Linked DNA regions of Homo sapiens: region 2 is linked to region 1. The links come from fine-mapping of genetic effects on gene expression. A gene starts in region 1. The other region holds a variant in brackets. All regions are shown on one strand. Distances are between the middles of the regions.

Region 1 (11,930 bases):
CATTAGAATTTATAAATTAAAGCATTCTTAAAGAGCTGCTAATTGAAAGCTTCAGTATGTATTTAATAAATACAAAAGGTTTTTCTACGTTTTACTAAGCTTATTTTCCATTGCGTGTTTAGAGAATTATTTTACATTCTCAATTTTCTCTGTATAGATATTTTAACCTTTGTTAATTAAATTACATGCTTAAAAATTAAAACTTTATTTCAAAAAATGTTAATTTTAGCATACCACTACCACCACCACCCAACTCCCTATTTTGAAAGATTAACATTAGAGATAAGGTCATTTACATACCATTCTTACCTGTAAGGGTAAGAGTGTATTACTATTGTTGTCTGTTCTGAACACATTATCTTCAATCCAAGATTTTGGAGTCAGTGATGGAGTTGAGCGAGTAAATTTCGGTGGTGCTATGACATTACCAGAAAACGGTTTCTTCAATGGAGATATCTGATTCATAGTTCCTGGGATTCCCATGTTTCCGGTTCTACGATGATCTCTGCCATGCATTGCTCCCCAGGACATACTTCCAGTGCCCCAGCCACTGCTCTGATGGTTGCTCCAGGGAGACTGTTTCAGAAGAGGCTAGGGAAAACATAGCTATTTAAATTGCGGCATTTAAAGAATTTACAATTCAAATTCAAATTCAAATTTCAGACCTAAGAATTTATATGAATGAAATATATAAAGGCAAAAGAATACATCTTTTCTAGGTTATAAAAGTAACAGTCTTGAGATCTTTCTATGTGAAATCATATTTGATGCTGGTCAAGTTTTCATCTTCTTGTATACTATAAATATCATGATATTTTATGACAGTTACTAAAATAGAACCATGCAGTTCCTTTTTATCCTTCAGAGATAACTGTATACATGATAAATATGAAGAAAAAAATTGAAATTAACTCTGAAGATTCTTAAAGATATAACATACATGGTGATCTTAAAGCAACCATATTAATTATGCTAGGCACACAACTAAAAATATGGTCTTTGTTAATTAAAATATCCTACTCATACAAGTGAAATATATAGACTTTATGTTTCCAAAACAAGTTGCACTACTACAAAAGTGGGAATTACTCTTGTACAAATTAAAATCGCCTTTTGAAATAAGGACAGTATAGAAACTATGTCATTTTTCTGCATTGTTTATTTAACTGTTAAGGCATTTTATTCCAGTTTTAGCATAGTTTGTCTTAATTGTTTTTATTTCACTTAATTATCCATAAACTGTGAAGCAATTATCTGATGTTGCCCATAGGTGGATCCACTGAGGTATACTGCTAATTAACTATATGCTTTGATTATTCCACTAGAGATCTTGATACAAGTCTCCATCAAGTTGATTCATTTTCAAAAGTAAATTACATCCTAATCTCAAACCTGTGGCAAGACAAGTCAAATCATCAAAGAATGGTAAATCCATCAAAACGCTAATAATTGTAGTTTTGGGTTTTTTTTTTTTTTAAGAAGTATTCATTGCTGGTAATTCTACTGTCAGTAAGTTTATACTTTAATACTTTGGTGTTAAGATGTAGCTAAAGAAGTATGAACCATACAGTTACTACAAATAAATATGGTTCTCTTAAAATTGAACCTGCTTTTTGTAAGACAATTAAAAGAGAAACTCCTGATCTACAGCACCAATTTTTAAACACTTTTAAATGCTAACATAATCATGAGTATATTATTACTCTTTCCTCTTCCACAGAGGTCCAAAGCATAATTACAGAGCCATGGACAAACCACTTCATTCTTGAGGGCCTTACTCTCCTTATTAAATGATTTAATGCTCAAAGTTATCTTCCAGTGATCTAAAATTCCATATGAAAGCTGTGTGACCTCTCACACTCCATGGCTAGACCCATCTTTTGTCCAAAAGCAAATTACAGTTAAATATGGATCATGGTATATGTTCTTCCAACGCTCTGTACCACAACTTTAAGTAAATACAAAATTACCTACAGATAATTTTCTGTGGGCAAGTTTCCAGATAACAAAATGAAGATCCTGAGACACAAAAGACAGTTGCTGAGGGTTATAAAAATCATGAAAAAGTGGAACATTATTTCAAAATCCCTATTTTCAATCCTCATAGGCCACATTCTCTTTTCTAAGAAAGAAATCAGTGATTCAACAAAAACTGTTCACTGTCACTTTGGTTAACTTAGATAAACTGTTAACTTTCACTTGGGTTAATTTAGATAATATTCACTTTAAAAAGACTAATCCTTGAAAACTTTGGTCAACTGAAAAAGTTATGGGGTTAAGGTCATATTTTGCGTCTCTGTCAATCCTTAATCACGAAAATAGAAAATGGACTTAAACAGAATGAACTCTGCAACAAATGCTAACAAGATTCAAAACCAACAAGACACTCTTTCAATGCCAATTTACCAATCTAGCGGTCACCCAAAAATTGTATTGAGGGAATAACAAAAAAGATCTTGAATCAAAAAAGATCCGGAAAATAAAAATTCTGCCCAGTGTCATTTCACAATATTACCTACTTAAAATACACACGGCCCACATATTCCCTTGTAGAAGGTTAAGGCAACCAAAAAATGTACCGAAAGTCTACGAGGAAACACACCAATCCCAGATCCAAGTTCAGTTTTGTCTTAAAACCCACAAAACATGACCCCAACATTGAAAAGCACAGAAACTAAGACATTCGTGGGATATCTCGGTTTGAACCCGAGCGGTCACTAACAGTTTCTCTTTCCCAGTCCTGTGACAGCCAAGGAGGCGGCCCCGCGGGAACCAGGTCCTGCGAGGAGGGCGGTCGGCCGCTCCCTCCCGACTCCCTCCTGGGCCGGCGGCCCAGGGTGCGGCGCTGCCAGCAGGTTGATCGGGCGGAGCTTTGGGAGCGGCTCGACTGACCGCCCGAGGGGCTGAGGCTTCAAGGCGAGATCACCGCCGGCCAAATAAGAATAAACAAACTCCAAAGAAAAAAAAAAGCCTTTCCGCCTTCCCTCATTGGACAGCGAGACAGAGTCTTGGGCTCCTCCGCACGCACCTTCTCCAGCAATCATTTTTCCCCTGCCCAAGTTCACTTCCCACGGCCGCTCTTCCGAGGCCCCCGGCCAGCCCCCGGTCCTCGCCGCGCCTCCCCGCGTCGGGGGTCCGGGGCGGCGGCCCTCCAGGCCCAGGGCACAGGGCGGATCCCGGGGTGCGCCAGCTAGGAGGGCCGGGTTGAGACGCCGCGCCCGGCCGCCCGCGGCCCCGGCGCTATTCGGCCCCTGCCCCAGTCCCCACTGCTGCGCCGGGACGTTCGAGGGGGCGCCCGGCCAGCCGCGGCTCCCAGCGCGAACTCGTCTCCCACGCCCCCACAGCCCACGGTGGCCACTGCCCTCCCAACCCACCGGGGGCTGGGGTTCCGAGTCCTGTCACGGTTGTCCGCCCTCAGTTCCACTCTCACTTGGGCGAGTGGCCCCCGTCGCGGCTTCTCTCGGGGCTAAGGTCGGGTCCCCGGCTGCCCTGCCCCCGCCTCCGTCCCCCGCCCATGGTCTCCCGGTCCCGCGGCGCGGCCAGGCCGCCGCCCGCCGTACCTGGTGGTGGTTATAGGAGTTCCTCTGCTGCAGGAAGGCGGCGGCCGCCGCCTGGTGCTGCTGCTGGAGCTGCGGGCTGACGGGCGACCTCCGGCTCTGCGGCTGCTGCGGCGCCGCGGGCGGCGGGGGCTGCTGTTGAGGTATATTCATGGCGGGCGGCGGCGGAGGGGGCACAGCGGTAGCCGAGAAGGGGCCGCCGAAGCCGCCGCCGCCGCCGCCGCTCGTCGGAACGCTGAGCCCAGTGCAGCCGTGCGGCGACACGGGCGAGAAGCTAGGGAAGAAGGCCGGGTTCATGGACGACGGCAGCCCGGGGTAGAAGCCGTTCTCTGAGTCGGGGCTGGGCGGCGGCATGGCGCTGAGCGAGCCGCCGCTGCCGCCGCCCGGGGTGGTGGCAGACGAGCCGGGCGGCTGCGGCTGCGGCTGGGGCGGCTGCTGGGGTGGCGGCGGCTGCTGCTGCGGCTGGGTCGGCGGCGGCTGCTGGGGCTGGGGTGGCGGCGACGCGGTCTGCACCGACCAGGGGGTGCCGAAGCCGGGCAGCGGCGGCGGCGACGCGGAGCCGCCTCCCCCTCCGCCTCCTGGGGGCCCCCCGCCCCCGCCGCCGCCGCCGCCGCCCGGGTGTGGAAGGTCCGGGCTCTGCAGGCTGCTGAAGGCGCCCGCGCCAAGCGCACCTCCGGGCAGGAGGTTACTGGGACTGTTGAGCAGAGGGTGGTTGGGGGACTCCATGGAGCCCGGCGCGGGGTTCACCGGCGTCGAGGAGGCCAAGCCCGCATTGGGGGACTCGGCGGCGCTGCCCTCGCCCGCGGCTGGGGTCTTGCGAGGGCTGCCCGCGCCTCCGTGGCGGCGCCGCGGGGCTGCAGGCGGCGAGGGAGGGAGCTGCGGGAGCGGGGGCAGGTCTGCCGGACGCTGCCGCGGGGCGAAGTCCTGCGGCGAGAGGTGCTGCTGATGCAGGAGGCTGAACTGCTGCGGCGGCTGTTGCTGCTGGCGCTGAGCGAGCTGCGCCGGCTGGAGGAGCGGGCCGGCTGGCGGCGGCGGCGGGCTGAACCGACCGGGGCAGTGGAGCGGCGGAGGCGGCGGCGGCGGCTTCGAGTCCGGAGGGTGGGGAAGGTGGGGAGGGCTGAACTCTTTCCTCTTCTGGCTGCTCAGCTGCTGCTGCTGCCGCTTACTGAAGTCCTGCGGGGAGGAGGTGCGGCAGCAGCAGCAGGAGGAGGCGGAGGAGGAGGAGGGGTGGTGCAGACTCGGTTTGAAGTCCTGGGAGGGGAGGAGGTGGGTCACACCCGCGATCGTGCCGCCGCCGGGGTGGTGGTCGGGGAGTTTCTCCGTGGCCGCCGCCCCCGAAAGCGGCCGCGCCGGCTGCTGTGTCAGCCCCAGAAGCAGCTCATCCTGCATGGTCTGCTGATGCGCCAGGAACGGGGAGGAAGAGGAAGCGGCGGCGGCCGGGCTGCCCGCGCCGCCGCCGAGGGGGACGGAGAAGGGGGAGGCGGCCTCTAAGAAGCCGGTGACAGGCAACGGTGGTGGCGACAGTGGGCCGAAGGGCGTGGCGGAGGGCAGCGGGTTGACGGACCCCACGGCGTAAGGACCATACGCCTCGCCGCAGAACAGGGGCCCAGGACTGCTACTTCGGAGCGGGGCGGTCTGCAGCACCCCAAACCCGAAATCCCTCATTTATCAGGCCGCCGGCAGCGGGAGGAGACGCTCCTCGTCCCCTGCCCCACCTAGGAAGCCGCCGGCGCTGGGGTTGCGCGGCCGTGGTGGAAGGAGGGGGAGTCAGTGAGAGAGGGACACCGTGACTGAGCCAGGGGGCACCGACTTCGGCCCCACCACCCCTCGCGGCGATCGCCGCCGCCGCCGCCGTCGCAGTCGCCGTAGCCGCCCTGGCCGCTTAAGAACCCCGGAACGTGCGTCAGCGCCACCTCACAATCGCGCCGCCCCCCGCGGTGCGTCCCGGCACGCGCGGGCGCGAGGCCACCGCGTCCCCGTCGCCCCTCCCCGCCCCTCATTACTATGCAGACGCAGCCGAGGGCGCGCTCGCGCTCCCGGGAGGGCGGGAGCGAGCGGCGTGTCCCGTTGGGTCTCTCCGCTCCCGGGGAAATGGACAGGCCGGTTGGGGTGGGGGTCGGCTGGCAAACAGTGGTCGGGAGCATTGGGCGGGCGCGCGCACGAGGGCAAGCACGCGCGGGAGGGAGGGACGGTTCCTGGGCAACGGCCCCTCCTTGGCGCGGGATCCGCGCAGAGTCTGCCTGGGTCGCACGCGTCTCCGCCCCTCGCGGTGCCTCCTCCTTCCTGTCACCTCGGTTCCGCCCTGGGTGGGGAGAAGCCCTGCTGCACCACTCGGGCTTCCCAGAGCGGGGCTGGCCCGCGGGGGAAACTGAGGCCCGGGACCCCGACCGGCGCCTGCACTGTGCGACCCGCGTAGAAATAGGCGCCCGAGGGGCCCCCAGCGCAACGCGGGAGCCCGGCCCAGCCCGGGGGTCCTGTGGTGAACTAGCGTCTGGGCTCTGCCGGCTTGAAGTCCGCTGAGCGCCTCGCCGCGCACCTCTAGACCCCGAGTCCCCGATCTAGGGCCTCCTTGTAGCCCTAGGTAGCGCCCTCTAAGCTTGTTTCTGTTTTTAGGCGCTGGTAGGAGTGCTGTCACCGACGTCGTAGAGCCGCCGAGGGTGTTTCTGTAGGGTAAACATGAAGCCTCGGCTATATTCCAGGCATTTTCACTTGGGTAAGAAGGAACAAAGTCCCTGGAACAAACACGCTCCGCGTGGTTATTTACACACTCGGATGCGTGGAACGGGTTCCACGGCGAGCTCCCATAGTAACCCCGGGCCAGCTCCGCTTCATAAAAGCCTTTCGTGTGCCATCAGGGCTGCAGCGTGGGACTCCTCCCCACCACATTCATTCCGGCGTCCCCGCCCCTTCCCCCCAGGGAGACTCTAATTTATTCCTAAGCTTTATGAATTTTCAAGGGAGAAATAGTTCTTACATCAGGGAAAAAAGGAGGTTCTGACTCAGCAGCAGACTTGTTGAGACTTGCAAAATGGAAGGGAGAGAGCTTTCCATGGTAGAGCTCTTTAGAAGCATTAGAGGAGGAACTAATCCTGTGTTTCCTTTTGTATAGAAACATTTTACATAAAGTATTTGAAGGTCTAGATAAAGAATAACAGAGTGATCCATACTACATGATGAGGTGAACTTTATGTTTCTGTTTTGTAATTTTAACTGTTTTGCTTGATGCTTAGAGAAATGAAACTATTAAATGAATCCTAGAATATAGACTCAAACCCCCAAAGCAATAGAAGGTGGATTCAGACTTTACTTGATTTTGGTTTACAAGTGAACTAAGATTAAATATTTAATTTTATAAATTAGCATACTCTTACTGATGTAGGCAGAGTGTACATTTTTATAAGTCCTCATTCTCTATTTGAATTCTACTTCTGTTCAGTGTCTCAAATTTATATAAATCGAAATAAACATGGTAGAAAGAGAGCAACATTGCCCCAGGGAACTATACTTCATGTATAATGTTTATCTCTGCTATCCTGTCCAATGAACCAAGTTTTATGTTGCCTTTACAATAAGGAAAAAGTACTTTTTAAAAAACTCAAATGGTTCAGAATTTGGTCAGGTGAATAGAAAATTGGTTCAACTTATTAATCTCAAAATCATTTTTAACAGTCAGGCAAAATGTAGAACTGGAGAAGTATTTTTATTCTAAATTACAATGTCTAGAAAATAACCTGAGCTCAGAATTTAAAATATAAATGGTTATTTTCAGAGTATATATTGACATATTAAATATTCATTTTTTAAAAGGTATTGTGCAGGAAAAAAAACTACTTCTGCAACTAAGGAATGTAAAGTCTTAACAACGGATGATTTTTTTCCAAGTACAGTTGTATTTGATTGGAATCATTTGCAGATCCAACAACAAATCTTGAAATAGGGGGAAAATACAGGTATAAACCTTAGCTCAATTATCCACTAACACCGCAGTTAGTAAAGAGGAGAGAGCACATACTTTTAAAAGCTAACTGGTGCCTTTCTGGGCTAGAGTTTTGAACAAAAACAAGATTTCTTAGTGCTCTGGTACTAGTTTTGTCTTAGAGGATTTAGAGCTCTCTGAAACGGGGAAAAGCCATCAAGTTTGTTATTACATAATAATGTCAAACTTCATATTAAATACACCAAATTCCAAATCCTGCCAGGGCCTCTACTCACTACTTTTGTGAGGGCCCCATTTTTTTAGAGCAGAAAGTTACTTTCTGACATCTTGTAAGCTGGTGATCTTGCCCTTATTGAAAATATTCAAATGAAAAGGTTTCCTAGGGTGGAGAGTGGAGTGGGGTAGGGAGAAGGAGCAGCAAATACTGAGGAGGGACTATGGTCCTCTAGCAGTTTCCATGCCAAGATCTTATGAGTCCATTCAATGATTTTTTTGGTTTTTTACATGAAAATATTTTGACTCATGATCATTAACTAGGACCTTGACTTTGTATTTGACAGTCCCTTATTCATTTACTCCCACTGTCCTGGGCAAGTATTTTTAAAAGTATTTTTGCTACAACCCAATATATGTGCAAGTACACACTCATGCAACTGAAATAAAGCTGCTATTAAGCAATTCTTTTAATAATGCAACAAACTCCTTTTTATAATTCTATTTTCATTTTAAAATCACGTTTGATCTCAAATTACAAAGTTGGTTTTAACACCCTCTATCAGATTATGAACTGAAAAACCACTGTCCTAGACCATTTCAAACATTCTGCTCAATCTGAAAACCTCTTGTCACATCTCTCCTACATGCATCTGCTAGCATGTAGCACTCTCAGCTGCTGAGCTACATGCTTATTTCACTGAGAAAAAAGAAGCAACCACAGGAAAACTTCCACAGTCTCCCTGCATCTGTCCCTGCACACCTTGCCTTCCCTCTCGATACAATGGATGGCCCATCTGCCCATACTCCTGTCTAAGGCCAGCCTCTCCACTGGCGGAGCAGATCCTACCTCTAACCTACTCAAGACATGGGCTCCAACAGTTTTCTCTCTCTGTCCTTCATCATGACCTCTTTCCTCTCCAGGAAACACTTCCATGTGCACAAAAACTTGCTTTACTAGTTCTCACCTTTGAAAAGTAAAGCCAAAACCTTTTGACCTTATATTCTCCCTCCTTTAGCTACTGCCTTCTTTTTCTGCTTTTACATTGCCTGAACGACTTGCCCATTTGACTGAGTGTCTCATAGATACCTCAAATTAAACACGTCAAAAATTAAACTCCCTGCCTCACTAGGCCCAATCCCTGTGGCGCTCCATTGTTCTGGTTGCTCAGGCCAAAAACCCTGGAGTCATTCTTCACTTCAATCCACTTCTGTCCTTCTTGCATCATATCCAAGCCATCAGAACATGTTGCTTGTCCTACCTTTAAATTACTGGCATAACCTAGAGATACCGTGGGTTTTGTTCCAGATTACCACAATAAAGCAAATATCCCAATAAAGCAAGTCACACCAATTTTTTGGTTTCCCAGTGCATGTAAAAGTTATGTTTACAGTATATTATACTCTAAACATAAGTTCTCAATTATAGTCTAAACATAACTTGTAATTACATTTAAATAAGTGCACAGTAGCATTATTCTGAAAAATATACACACATTAATTTAAAAATACTGCTAAAAAGTGCTAATGATCATCTGAGCCTTCAGTAAGTCATAATCTTTTTGTCAGTGGAGAGTCTTGTCTCGACATTCATGGCTGCTGACTGATCAGCATGGTGGTGGCTGAAGGCGGAGGTGGTTGTGGCAATTTCTTAAGACAAAGATAGAGTTTGTCACATAAATTGAATCTCCCTTTCATGAAAGATTTCTCTGTACCATGCAATGCTGTTTGATAGCATTTTGTCCACAGAACTTCTTTCAAAATTAGTCAGTCCTCTCAAAACCTGCTAATGCTTTATCATCTAAATTTATGTAATATTCTAAATCTTTTTTGTCATTTCAGCAGTGTTCATAGCATCTTCATGAGGAGTAGATTCCGTCTCAAGAAACCACTTTCTTTGCTTATCCATGAGCAGCAACTCCTTCTCCATTCAAGTTTTATTGTAATATTGCAGCAATTCAGTCACATCCTCAGGCTCCACTTCTAATTCTAGTTCTCTTGCTATTTTTACTACATCTGCAGTAACTTCCTTCACTGAAGTCTTGAACCCCTCGAAGTCATCCAAGAGGGTTGGAATCAGCTTCTTCCAAACTCCAGTTAATGTTGACACTTTGACCTCCCATGAGTCACACATATTCTGAATGGCAGCTAGAATGGTGAATCCCTTCCAGAAGGTTTTCAATTTGCTTTGCCCTTATCCATCAGAGAAATCACTATGGCAGCTATAGCCTTATGAAATTTATTTCTAAAATAATACTTGAGGCTGTCCTGGTGACAACTTAGTGATTTTAAATTTTAAAATGAAAATAGAATTATAAAGAGGAGTTAGTTGCATTATTAGAAGAATTGCTTAATAGCAGCTTTATTTCAAAACAATCTCAGCACTTTGGGAGGCCAAGGCGGGCAGGTCACTTGAGGTCAGGAGTTCAAGACCAGCCTTGCCAACATGGTGAAAACCATTCACTTCTAAAAATACAAAAATTAGCTGGGTGTGGTGGCGCATGCCTGTAATCTCAGCTAATTGGGAGGCTGAGGCAGGAGAATCGCTTGAACCTGGGAGGCGGAAGTTGCAGGGAGCCGAGATAGTGCCACTGAACTCCAGTCTTATAGCCAGAGCCAGATTTTGTCTCAAAAATAATAATAATAATACTTGAAACTCATAATTACTCCTGAATCCATGGGCTGCAGAATTGAAGTTGGGTTAGCAGGTATGAGAACAACAATTATCTTCTTGTACATCTCCATCAGAACTCTTGGGTGACCAGGTATATAGTCAATGAGCAGTAATATTTTGAAAGCAATCTTCTTTTCTAAGCAGTAGATCTCAACAGTGGACTTAAAATGTTCAGTAAACTATGCTCTTTCCAAGTTTTGTGGTTCCATTTACCAAGCACAGGCAGAGTAGACTTAGCATGATTCTTAAGGGCCCTAGGATTTTCAGAATGATTAATGAGCATTGGCTTCAAGTTAAGGTCACCAGCTACATTAGCCCTTAAGAAAAGAGTCTGTCTTTTGAAGCTTGAAGCTAGGCATTGACTTTTCCAGCTATGAAAGTCCTAGATGATACCTTCTTCCAATAGAAGGCTGTTTTTTCTACGTGAAAACTTATTTAGTGTAGCCACCTTCATCAGTTATCTTAGCTAGATTTCTAGATAACTTGCTGCAGCTTCTCCATAAGCACTTTCTGCTTTACCTTGCACTTTTATGTTACGAAGACAGCTTCTTTCCTTAAACACGAACCGACCTCTGCGAGCTTTGAACTTTTTTCTTCTGCAGCTTCCTCACCTCTCTCAGCCTTCACAGAATTGAAGAGAGTTAGGGCCTTGCTCTGGAGTAGGCTTCAGCTTAAGGGAATGTTGTGGCTGGTTTAATTTTCTCTATCCAGACCATTCACACTTTTTCTATATCAGCAATAAAGCTGTTTCACTTTCTTATCACTCGTGTTCACTGGAATAGTACTTTTAATTTCCTTCAAGAACTTTTCCTTTGCATTCAGAACTTGACTAACTACTTGGTGCAAGAGGCCTAGCTTTCAACCTATTTCAGCTTTCCACATACCTTCCTCACTAAGCCTAATTATTTCTAGCTTTTCATTTAAAGTGAGAGACATGTACCTCTTCCTTTCACTTGAATACTTAGAGGTCGTTAGAGTGTTATTAATTGGCCTAATTTCAATATTGTTTTGTCTCAGGGAATAGGGAAGCCCAAAGCCTTTATTGATTAAATTATTGTCTTATATGGTTGTGGTTTGTGATGTCCCAAAACAGTTACACTAGTAACATTAAATATTATGATCACAGATCCCCAAAATAGATATAATAATAATGACAAAGCTTTAAGTAACGCAAGAATTACCAAAATGTAACACAGAGATACAAATTGAGCCATGCTGTTGGGAAAATTGTGCTGATAGACTTGCTTGATGCAGGGTTGCCACCAACCTTCAATTTGTGAAAAACCCATTATCTGAGAAGCACAATATAGCAGAGCACAATAAAGCGAGGAGTGCCTATATATCCAGAATCCAAGCACTTCACCCCATTCTCACCACAAGCAGCCTGGACCAGGCTACATCGTTGCTCTCACCTACTAACTCGTATTCCAGCTTCTGATCTTGCCCCTCTCCAGTCTGTTCCCAACATAGCAGCCAGGATGATACTTCTGAAGTGGAAGACAGGTCATGTCAACTCCTCTGACTAAATACTTACATTTTCTCAGAATAG
Region 2 (11,930 bases), 73 kb before region 1:
GCATTGTTCTAAATGTTGGGGCTGTCATAGTGACTAAGAAGGGTAAGAATTCTGACTTCAAGAATCTTCCCATCTTCCAATCTAGTGGGAGTGACAGACATGATACATGTAAGCAACCAAATCAATACAATAATTATAGATTTTGATATGTGATAAAGGAACTAGGTAAGACACCGAGAGGGAAGTTAACAGGAAGGGCTCGCTTCAGAATGCATGGACAGGAAAGGCCTCATGAAATCTGAGATCTGAAGACAGAGAAGACCTGGGGGAAGAGCATTCCAAGCAGAGGGAACAGCTAATGCAAAGTCCTTGAGGAGGAAAGAGTTTGCTATGGTCTTGGAAAGTTCAGGGACACCCAAACGAAACAACTGTGCTGCATGTGAAGCAGCATTTTTCTTCATGACTAAACTGCTCAATGGTTCATTTTAATCAATAGCAGATTACGTAATGCAAAATAAGTCTCCAAATTAATATACTGCATTGTGTCTAATTCAGATCGTGAAAAGTCACTCTGTAGGAGAAATGCCTGCACCACTTTGAGTAACGACATCATTGCGAGCCACCAAAATTTTAGTTTCTCAGGCAGCATGATGACATTTCAAAAAGTTCAGTGGAGTGGCTTCTCATGGTCTGGGGGGAAGGCAAGCACTGGACAAAGACTCTGGGGCTCCCATTTTGGCTCATCCACCAAACAGCCTTGGAACTTCAAACCAGTCATTCTCCCTTCTTGGAACTCAGTTTCCTTCTCATCTGAAATAATTGATAAAGTCACTTTAAATAAGTAAGGGCTATGGTTTATTTCCTGTAGAATGGTTAATGATTTACATGTCATCATCAGTATAATTTGAACAAGGGGAAAAAAGAAAGAAATAGAAAGGAAGAAATAAAAAGAGAAAAACTAAAGAAAAGAAAAAGGAAGAAAAATAATGAAGATCTTGCACATGAATGAGGAAATGCTTAATAAATGGCATATAGTAATCATAACTTTTTAAAAACAGAAGTTTCTATGTCAAATATATGGCAGGGCTACCTGTTTAGCTGCTGGTTCCATCCCTGTCCGACAATTCCTAGTGGTGAAAGCCTATAATCTGAACCTGACTCTTCTGATAGCAATAATAATTCTCAATTCAGCCCAGGAACACCACATGTAATTACTGAATTCTAAAGATGGTCTCCCAAGATTCCCATTTCTTATTTTTCAATTGAGCACTGATCTAGGTACTGCTATGAGGAAATTTTGCAGCTGTAATTAAAGCTACATGTCAGTTGATCCTATAATACAGAGATTATCCAGTGGGCCTGACTCAATCAGCTGAGCCGTTTAAAAGCAAAATTTTCGCTGGCTGGTTGCAGAACAGAAAGTTTCCAAACTTGAGAAAAATTCAACACATTTTTTGCTGGCTTTGAAGGAGGAAGCAACGTTAGCAGGAGTGTGGTCAGTCCTAGGAGATGAGAGTGGCCCCTTGCCACCAGACAGCAAAGAAACAGACATCTCAAAAGCACAAATGCAAGAAACAGTATTCTGCTGAAATTTGAATGCTCTTGGAAGTACCTTATTTCCCACAGTCTTCAGGCAAGAGTCCAATCCAGCCGTCATCTTTATTTTGGCCACGTGACGTCCTTAGCAGAGAACCCTGTCATGTTCCCCCAGACCTCTGACCTACACAATTGTGAGCTAGTAAATGCGTTTTGTTTTAAGTTACTAAATTTGTGGTAGTTTGTTACACAGCAACAGAAAATGAATACATCAAATATTTGAAGAAAGCAATATGAAAGAAAGACACCAAACTCAACTAACATCCAAAGAAACACTTAATTTAACAAGTAGGATGTTTTCTTTAAAAAAAACCCTATAATTTCTCCAGTAATTTAAAAAATTGTGGTAAGAACATTTAACATATCTATCTTCTTGACAAATTTTTAAGTGTACAATGCAATATTGTTCAATACAGTCATGATATTGCACAACAGATTTCTAGAACTTACTCATTCACCTTGCATGACTAAAACTTTATACTCACTGCCCAGCAACTCCCCATTTTCCACTTTCCCCAAACTCTGGAGACCACCCTTCTACTCTTTGCCCCTATGACTATTTTTGGAAATTCATATAAATATTTGTTCTTTTGTGACTGACTTATTTCATGTAGCACGGTGTCCTCAAGATTCATCATGTTGTCACATTTGGCAGGATTTCTTTCTTTTTTGAGGCTGAATAACATTCCATTGTATATATATACCACATTTTGTTTGAAGAGTCTTTGACTTTGGTATTAGGGTAATACTGGCCTCATAAAATAAGTTTAAAAGCTTCCCCTCCTCTTGAAGTTTTTGGAAGAGTTTAAGAAGGATTGGCATTAATTTTTTAATAATTGAATAATATTTTTTATTATCATGTCTTCTCATTCCTAGGAATTTAAGTGATAAAAATCAGAACAGAATCTGAAATAGTCACACTACAAAATCGGTTAGATTTCTCTTGGGATACCACCACATGTGCTCATAAGTGGGATCTAAATGAGGAGAAAATAGACACTTAGAGGGGAACAACATACACTGGTGCCCTTTGGAGGGTGGAGGATGGGAGGAGGAAAAGGATCAGGAAAAATAACAAATGGGGTACTAGGCTTAATATGTGGGTGATGAAATCATCTCTACAACAAACCACAATGACGCAAGTTTACGTTATGTAACAAACCTTGTTTGTACAAGGTTTGTATCCCTGAACTTAAAAGTTACAAAAAAAGGGTCAAAAATTATAAAAAGAATTGCATAATCCTAAGTCATCTATTTATTTAAAAGTGTTTGGTGTAACTCACCAGTGAAGCCATCTTATTCAATTTCCTTACTAATTATAGATCTGTTCAGGTTTTTAATTTCTTCATAATCCAATCTTAGTAGGTTGTATGTTTCTAGTAATTTATCTGTTTATTCTAGGTTATACAATTCGTTCGTGTATAAGTGTTCATAGTAGCCTCTTTTGATCCTATTTCCATGGCATCAGGTAAAATGTTTCCTCTTTCATTTCTGATTTTTTTAATTTAAGTCTTCTCTCTCTCTCTTTTTTTTTTTTTCAATTCTAGCTATGGGTTTGTCAATTTTGTTGATCTTTTTCAAAATCCTACTCTTAGTTTTATTTTTTTTAATTGGTTTTCTGTTTTCTATTGTGTTCATTTCTGCTTTAATCTTTCTTTCTTTCTTTTTTCTAACTTTGGGCTTAGATTGTTCTTTTTCTACTTTCTTGAGGTACAAAGCTATGCTGTTTATTTGAGTTCTTTCTTATTTCAATGTAGGTGCTTATTGCTGCATAATTTCCTTTTCCTGATTTTGTTACAGTCCAAAGGACTTGGTATGTTGTGTTTCCATTTCCAGTTTTCTCAAGATATTCTCAAATTTCCCTTCTGATTTTTTATTTGATTCACTGGCTGTTCAGGAGTGTCTTGTTTAATTTACATATTTGTGAATTTTCCAGTTTTCTTTAGTTATTGATTTCTAGTTTCATTTCATTGTGGTCAGAAAAAAATACTTAGTATGAGATCAGTCTTCTTAAATTTGTTAAGATTTGCTGTGTGACCTAACATGTAATTAATTCAGCACTTGAAAAAAATGTGTATTCTTCTGCTGTTTGGTGGAATATTCCATATATGTCTCTTGGATTCATTTGGTCTACAGTATTGTTTATGTCCTCTGTTTCTTCATTGATTTTCCATATGGAACTTCTATTCATTGTTAAATGTTAGGTATTAAAGTATCCTACTATTGCTGTTTTTCCCTTAGTTCTGTCAATGTTTGCTTCATATATTTAGATACTTCTAATGTTGGATGAATACATATTTAAAATTGTTACATTTTCCTTAATAATTATTTTATCATTATATAATGACCTTTTGTGACAGCTTTGTCTCAAAGTCTATTTTGTCTAGCATAAGCATAGGCATGCTACTCTCTTTTGGTTACAATTTGCATGGAATGTTTTTCCATCTCTTCACTTTCAGTTTGTATATGTTCTTAAATCTAAAGTCAGTCTCCTGTAAACAGCATATAATAAGTTCCTATATTTTATTAATTTTATTTTTATCCATGCAGCCATTTATAATTGGAGAATTTAATTCATTTACCTTTAAAGTGATTGTTCATAGGGAAGAACTTACTATTGCCATTTTCTAGTTTTCTGTCTTTTGGTTCTTGTGTTCTTTTCCTTTCTTGCTGTTTTCCTTTGTTGATTTTTTTTTTGTATTGATATGCTTTGATTCTTTTTTACTTACTTTTTTAAATTTACTTTTTACTTTCTTTTGTGCATATTTTATAGGTGTTTTCTTTGTGGTTACATGGGGCTTACAGAAAACATCTTATGGTTATAATAGTCTATTTCAGGCTAGTATCAACTCCATACAGAAACTCTACACTGTTACTTTTCTTCTCCCCACACTTTGTTCTTGATATTACAATTTATATCTTTTAAAATTGTTTATTCATTAACATATTTTATAGTTATAGTTATTTTTACTGTTTTTGCCTTTTTAACCTCTAAACAAACTAAAACTTATTTACCTATCATATTACATGTCATGGTATTTTCAATCTGTATATATATTTACCTTTACCATGAAGTTATATAGTTTCATATGCTTTTTAATAGATGTTAAGCATTCTTCCTCTTCAACTTGAAGAATTCCCTTTAACATTTTCTGTAAGGCACATCTATTGGTGAAGAATTCCTTCAGATTTTGTTTGTCTGGGAAAGTCTTTATCATGCCTTCATTTCTGAAGAACAGGTTTTGCTGGTTAT[A/G]GTATTCTTGGATGACAGTTTCATTCTCAGCACTTTTAATATATCATCTCACTGCCTTCTAGGCTGTAAGATTTCTGCTAAGAAATCTGCCAATACTGTTATGTATATTTCCTTAGATATAACAAGCTTTCTCTTGCTATTTTCAAAATTCTCCTTGACTTTTAAAAATTTGATTACATTGTGTCTCAGTGTGGATCTCTCTGGGTTTATTTTATTTGGGAGTCCTTGGGCTGCTGAGATGTGGATGTCCATTTCTTTCATAGATTTAAGAAGTTTTCAGTTATTATTTCTTTAAATACACTTTCTACCCTTTCTGATCCTTCTGAGACTCCCATAATGTGTATATTGTTTCCCTTAAGCTTTCTTTCCTCTTTTTCATTCTTTGTTCCGTTTGTCCCTCTGACAAAAACATTTTCACAATCTGTCTTCAAGTTTACTAATTTTTTATTTTTTAGTTCAAATGTTTCATTCATTAGTTTCAAAATTTCTGTTTGGTACTTTACTTTTTTATTGTAATAATTCCTTTGTTCATGCATTATTCTCCTGACCTCATTAAGCATCTTTATAACAGTTATTGTGAATTATCTATTAGTAATTTTCTATTAGCAATATATCTCCCATTTCATTAGGGCCACTTTCTGAAGCTGTATCTTGTTCCCTTCTGGAGGACATAGTTTTCAGTTTTGTATTGTTTTTCATTTTCCTTGACTTTTTGTGTTGGTATCTATGTATTAGATAAAACAGTCAACTCTCTTCATCTTCACGGAGTGGCCTTATACAGGAGAAGACTTTCACCAATCATTCTGGCCAGATATGTTGGGGGGCCTCTCAAACTTTTATGCCAGTCCAAATCATCATCTTTGTCCTTTAGTAGACCCCAAGCATCTAAAGTATGCTGGGCCCTGTCATTGCTTTCAGACAGGTGAGACAGAAGCCTCAAGCAGTACCTGAAAAATTGGAACTTTGGATGTGCGGGCCAATTCTTTCCTTCCTCAGGGAAATGCTAGCATCTAAGATGTATCATCTGCTTGCGTTGTGCTCTGAGGCATGGGGAAGGGCTATTGTGGCTGCTTCCATGCTAGTTCAAACCATTGTCTTTGTTCTCACTTGCCTCTAAGCCTCTAGAGTATGCCAAGACCTATCAGCACTCTGCAATAGGTAAGACAGAAACTAGTCCTTTGGGAAGCCCCTGGAAAACTTTCAAACATTGGACACATACCCCAACTCTTTCCTTGCACCCCAGAAGAAGCTGAGAGCTGCTGCTGTTGTTGTTGTTGCCTCTAAATGTGTCTCTATTCCAGTCTGCTAGATACGGGAAGTGAAAGCCAATGTGATGGTTCTAGAAGGCAGGAGAGGGATGGGAAAAAGCTGATATTTATCAAGTGTATCTATGTGCCAGAGAGAACACTGGGTGCTTTACATACATAATCCCTAATCTGCATAGCAATTCTGTATAGTAGGTATCACTGATGCCCAGTAAGCTTAATAGACTTTCTCAAGATTTTCTAGCTCCTATAGGGCAAGGATAGAATAGAAATTCCTTTTTCTAACTGTATATGCAGCTCCCAGTTCACTGTCTTTCTAGTATATCGGTTTGCCGCTTTTCTGATTTTATAATTTTCTAACATATCTTCTCCAAGCTTTTCCCTTTCTAGACATTATTTTCCCTCAAAGGTCAAGAGCAGCCATGCTTCTCTTACAAGAACATGAGTATGATGATGGGAACAGTAAGGCAGGGCAGTGTGGTGTGGCATAGTCCGATGGCTCCTGACCCTGCCTGTACAGTAGAATCACCTGGGGAACATGTTAAAAATATATTCATCTGGGCCTCACTCAAGGCCTACTGAATAAATATATCTGTGACTGGAACTTCGGGAATATATGTTTTAAGAAACAATCAGCATAGATTTGAGAACCATTGGTGTAGTTAGAACTAGGTTTGGATCTTGGCCCTGCCATTTACTTACTTTCCATTTTTCCATTTTGTGTTATATGACAACTGTTAGTCAAGCTAGACTAGGTCTTGCTGCAGTAATAAATTAGCCCTGAAATCTCATTGTCTTACTACAACAAAGGATTATTTATCACTCTTATTTCACCGCTGGCTTACTGGCCTTAGTGTACAGTTTATTTCCATATTTGTTTTGTATTTACACAACATATAGAAAAATCCTGATTCACACACAAATAGTTTAGCATACTGACTTAGATGCTCACAAGAAAAGAAGCAGAAAAACTGGATGGAAGGTTGTATCACTAACAATATCTAACTCAACTGATGGCATTCCTTGGGAAGTATTCAGTTTAGAGGTAATTGAACAGGTAGATTCACTATTTGGTAGAAAATACTTTTCAAATGGCAGTAAAGTTGGGCGTTAAAATAACAGTATTATATGATATGTTCAAGGGCGTCATTAAAAAAATCTCAGTTGTCTGTTGTACTTAAAGTTTCAAATCATACAGACATATGTTCTATATATTAGGTAAGGCTAACTTTAACAATTATTGTTGAAGTTTTATCAATAAAGACAATAATTTTGTGATTTGCAGTAGAGCTTATTTTGACACACAGCGCCACTACTTATCATATGACTATCTGTGTCTTGATAGTATCACCACATGCCTGCCATTTGTCATGTGAGGCCCAAGTACTAACATAATGTATTTTCTTCTTTGAGAGGAGAAAATGGTAGATCCCGGCTCCAGTGAGTGTAGGGTAGAGAGAAAGCTAATTGAAATGAAGCTTCCTAGAGGAGATGGCAGGGAAGTTGGTCTTGAAAAGTTCCATAATCTGCACAGTTAGATCTCTAACCTCATTATCTGCCATGCCGGGCTTTGGAATTTACGCTCTAGAGACACACCCTACAGGTTGTTTTGAGCTTTGTTCAAACTCTTTCTTCTCCCTAAAATCTCTTATCACTTTTTTCTTTTGGTTAAGTAACACATATTCTTCATGCCTAATCTCAGTTTTTATTTCTTCCAGGAAATGTTCTTTATTCACTTGTTCTTTAAATTATTACTTATTTTCTGTGTTCTTGTGGCCTATTGCACACATCTCCCTTATTTTAATGTCATTGAAATTATCAGAGTACTCCTAGAATTGACCATAAACACCTTGTCTTATTCTTCACATCTCCATATACTTATTTTTACATATATATATGCATTAAGTACATTCACATTGCTGCATAACCATCACCACCATCTATCTCCAGAACTTTTTTCATCTCAACATGAAATTCTATGCCAAACAATAACTCCCCATTGCCCGCTTCCCCTAGCCCCTGGCAACCACTATTCTTTCTCTATGTATTTGAGCACTCTAGGTACCTCATGCAATGGAATCATACAGTGTTTGTCCTTCTGCAACTGGCTTATATCACCCAGTATGTCTTCAGGCTTCCACCATGTTGTAGCATGTATCAGAATTTTCAAGGCTTCCTTTTTAAGGTTGAATATTCCATTGTATGCATATACTCCTTTTTGTTTATTCATTCATCCATTGACAAACATTTCGGTTGCTTCCACCTTTTGGCTGTTGTGACTAATGCTGCTATGAACATAGATGTACAGAAACCTGTTGAGTCTCCGCTTAGAAAAGTTTTCTATTTCTCAACAAGTTTTACAATTATTCATAATGTGAACTGATAGGAAATTCATTTTCTATATGTGCATTACATTGCACAAAATGGTTTTAAAAACAGCCTATAGACCTAGAATTTAGTTACCATGAAAAATCTCTTTGATTCTGTTTTTGTATTTCTTCCTATGTTCCTCACTCTCTTATCCTGCTATTGAAGCAAGCATTGTTTTCTTTTCCATTTTCCTTTTTAAAATAAATTTTATTAGTGAAGTGTAAAATATACAGAAAAGTGCTCAGGAAATAATCATCAGCGTGATAAATTATTCACAAAATGAACACTCTGAGTGTGTGTGTGCATACATGGGGGATGTCTGAATTAAAATATGCAGTCATTTTAGGAGGTCAGCAATGTCTTAAACTGAAAAATAAACATTGTTAAGTGTGCTATTTGGATATAATAAGGCAAATAACATGATACTGTTAAAGTGAAAACACTTAAAAAGAGTTAAAAGTTGCCTTTTATGAGTGGAAATTGTAGATGAGGAAAGGGTGGGTGGGGTTTTATCTTTTTCATAATTTGTGTATTTGACTTAAAATATTTAAAATGTTACATTTAAATATATATTAAATGCATTTAAAAATTACATATATTGCAATTTGAAGACAATTTAGTATTAATAATAAATTAATCAACATCTATAGTCTTATCTTCTTCTATCCCAAACAAGGCTTTCTTCTTCATTTCAAATGTTCATCCAGGTTTTGCTTTAAATTACCTTGAGTTTTAGTTATTATTTTAACATCGATGTTTTAAATTATGACTTTATTTGGACTTGCTTCTAAATTGTGTGAAGCTTTTTAGCCACATTTCGTTTCCTAACTATACACTAGAGCGATATTTTTTACCTATGTAGTATCCCATGTCTTCATGTTTCCTGGGTATTTTATTATCATTCCTTCTTTTTGGTGAAATAGATCTTTAAGTAACTCTTTTAGAAAGGATTTGTGAGTGCTAATCTTTGTATCTTTTAATTCTTTGTTCATGGAAAAATTTAAGTCAAATGCTATCCCCTATGTAAAAGTTCTTAAGTAATTTCATTTCAAGGAAATGAAATTACTTAAGAAGAATATTCCTTCCTTTCATGCTTTATACATGTTTATGAAAGTGTATTTTATCTTTTATTAGCATACTGCATTGCATTTGAGTTAGCCTGGCCTTTCACCTTCAAGGCTATGAGACCTTGTGAGCAAAGATTTGACAAAGTCGGTGTTCAGTACTAAGTTGGTATTCAAAGCTTATTCTTTTCTTAAATAACCGAGGGAAAGGGGAGCATAAGAAAATGATCTTTATGTCAGTAGCAAGGGAATTAAGACACTGTGAAATTCCTGTTGTCTTAGATAGGCCAGAATGTGGAGGCGGCTCTTTAGTTTTATTATGAAAGAGGACTTTGTTGAGGAAAGAGAAAATAGATTCCAAATAGAAAAATGGCAGCATATGCTAAACAAGATACAGATATGTAGAGATGCATGATTTGCTTGGAGGACATGGGTGACAGTGACACAATATGAAGGGCATACAATGGCAAGATTAGCCCATTTAAGGAGTTTCTATGGTGTCTTGTAGAAGATGAGGAAACATTAAGTTTTACCCTTTCTGACATACCTATGTCCTTATAGGTAAAACAAAACATTTGGTTATGATCAGTGATCTTTCATTTTCTGAAAATGCAATGGAATCCTTTCCTCCTTCTGCCCAGTGACTGCATACCAATTTTTAGGTAGAACTTCAGCTTTGTTAAAGTTAAAAGTAGAGCTGTTCTAGTTATAATTAGGATGAGGAACCTAGATTCCAGGCTCCTTACTCTATACTTCTTTTCCTTCTCCCTCCCTCTTCAAAGTAGACACTGAAAAATCCACACAGGCTGTGCAAAGAACAAGTAAAACACTACAAGTGATTCCCAACTAGAGGGTATCTGAGAAAGTATCATGAAAACTGTGCATTTAGCAACATGATTAACAGTTCCTCATTTTTTGAATGCAGCATCAACTTAGATATGGCAATATTAATTATAAGTGATGACTGTAACACAGAAATTTCTATGATATATGGGGGATGAGGGTGGGAGAACTGACACAAGAGGACTCAGGGCTGAAATACTGAGAGATACTAGACAACATGGTCTCCAAGGCTTCTCCTCTATCCTTGTACTGAAATGTAGTTTGGCCTGGGCATCATAATATATTTATGTCACTAAGCTCTCTCTCTAAATAAGATCTTACTGGTGTTTTTGAATATTTTACTTGATTTGAACCGAAGAATAAGATTCCACAACTATGCCAATAACTTAATAGTTTATTAGTCAGTCAACAATATTACAAATATTTAAAAATTACTTAATATAAATAGTTGGCAGCAAACTATTCCATTACAGAGTTAAATTACCAGTACAACAGACAGACTGGAGATTTAGACACCTGGAAGATAACAATAAAATAAACTAAAATATTTAACGAAAAATTTAAGCTGAAGGTGTTTACCTAGTGTCCATAAAAGCATGGGTTCTCTTTTTATTTAGAAAAAAATAAAAAACGGCTTTAACACCCCATTAGGAATATAAAATAAAATCAACTGAAAATATTAATTTGCATATCAAAGAACCATTTATAATTACAATCCAAACACTCCATAAACCACTTGTGCGATTCTATACAGAAACTGGGAATTAGAAACTAGTTGCTTTAATATTACAAAGATTTCAGCTCCAAAAATAATTCAACATAAAATAAACTTTAGCAATTAGTGTCATAAAATTATATATTTCCACATAAAAATACAAAATAATATTAATGACAAGAATATGAAAAATTATTCCAAGTATTTTACTACTATTAAAATAAAATAAAACCCAAAAAAACAAAATAGAAATATGCATGAAAAAAGTCTCTCCTTTTGTTAGCAAAACACTATCCAAAATAACTACAATCATTTACATCAGTACAAAGATTTCTGGATTTAAAAAATAGTTGCAATGACAAAAGGGGTATCTTTTCTGACAGTAAAAAATGACACTGTGGATAAAATCTGCAAAATATGCAATGAAAAAAATAAATTTGCATTAAAAAGGTTTACACTGTTTTTTTTTATACAAACATTAGAAACAGTATTGCACATCACAACACAGAATCGAGGTTAGTCAGCCTTCCAAAATGTGTTATATTCAAGTTTTGTAGCATCTTTGAGGAGAGGCTCTGTGCAGCCAGATGCAACAGGGATAAAATATCAAGTGTTTTCCATACACAAATATATAAATGCTAAATGTTTCCTTCTTAACAAAAAGTGTGGATTTTTAAAGTATTTTTTTTTCCTCCACAGTCATACTTTTGGGCAGCAATATGAATATTTAGGGAACACAAGTGAAGAAGCTTTTAAAATACAAAAATACAATCAAAATTAATAATTTTCTACAAAAATAGTAAAATAAATATGATCTGTAAATTAAAAAAAAACCTCCAATACAGTGTTTAAAAGTTAGAAAATAAGAATGTAGTACATAAAGG

The links.
Region 2: its variant is fine-mapped to the expression of CPEB2 in whole blood (TOPMed, PIP 0.99).

What each region holds. Positions count from the first base shown.
Region 1 is chr4:14,995,966-15,007,895 of GRCh38, reverse strand. It overlaps CPEB2 (cytoplasmic polyadenylation element binding protein 2), which reads right to left and starts at 5,415. Exons shown (of 12, transcript NM_001177382.2): 1 at 3,561-5,415; 2 at 310-591. The coding sequence starts at 5,222. CPEB2-DT (CPEB2 divergent transcript) reads left to right here and starts at 5,851. Exons shown (of 8, transcript NR_038857.1): 1 at 5,851-5,958; 2 at 6,171-6,270; 3 at 6,667-6,735. C1QTNF7-AS1 (C1QTNF7 antisense RNA 1) reads left to right here. Exons shown (of 6, transcript NR_125911.1): 5 at 1,326-1,425; 6 at 2,739-2,954. RefSeq lists enhancers at 2,969-3,535, 6,377-6,426 and silencers at 2,977-3,576, 3,957-4,166, 4,267-4,416, 4,467-4,776, 5,277-6,136.
Region 2 is chr4:15,068,929-15,080,858 of GRCh38, reverse strand. All of the region lies in intron 2 of C1QTNF7-AS1 (C1QTNF7 antisense RNA 1), which reads left to right. CPEB2 (cytoplasmic polyadenylation element binding protein 2) reads right to left here. Exons shown (of 12, transcript NM_001177382.2): 12 at 10,708-11,930. Among named protein-coding and RNA genes, the nearest start is that of CPEB2, 72 kb to the right of the region's middle. The variant A/G (reference allele first, on the strand shown) is at 4,790.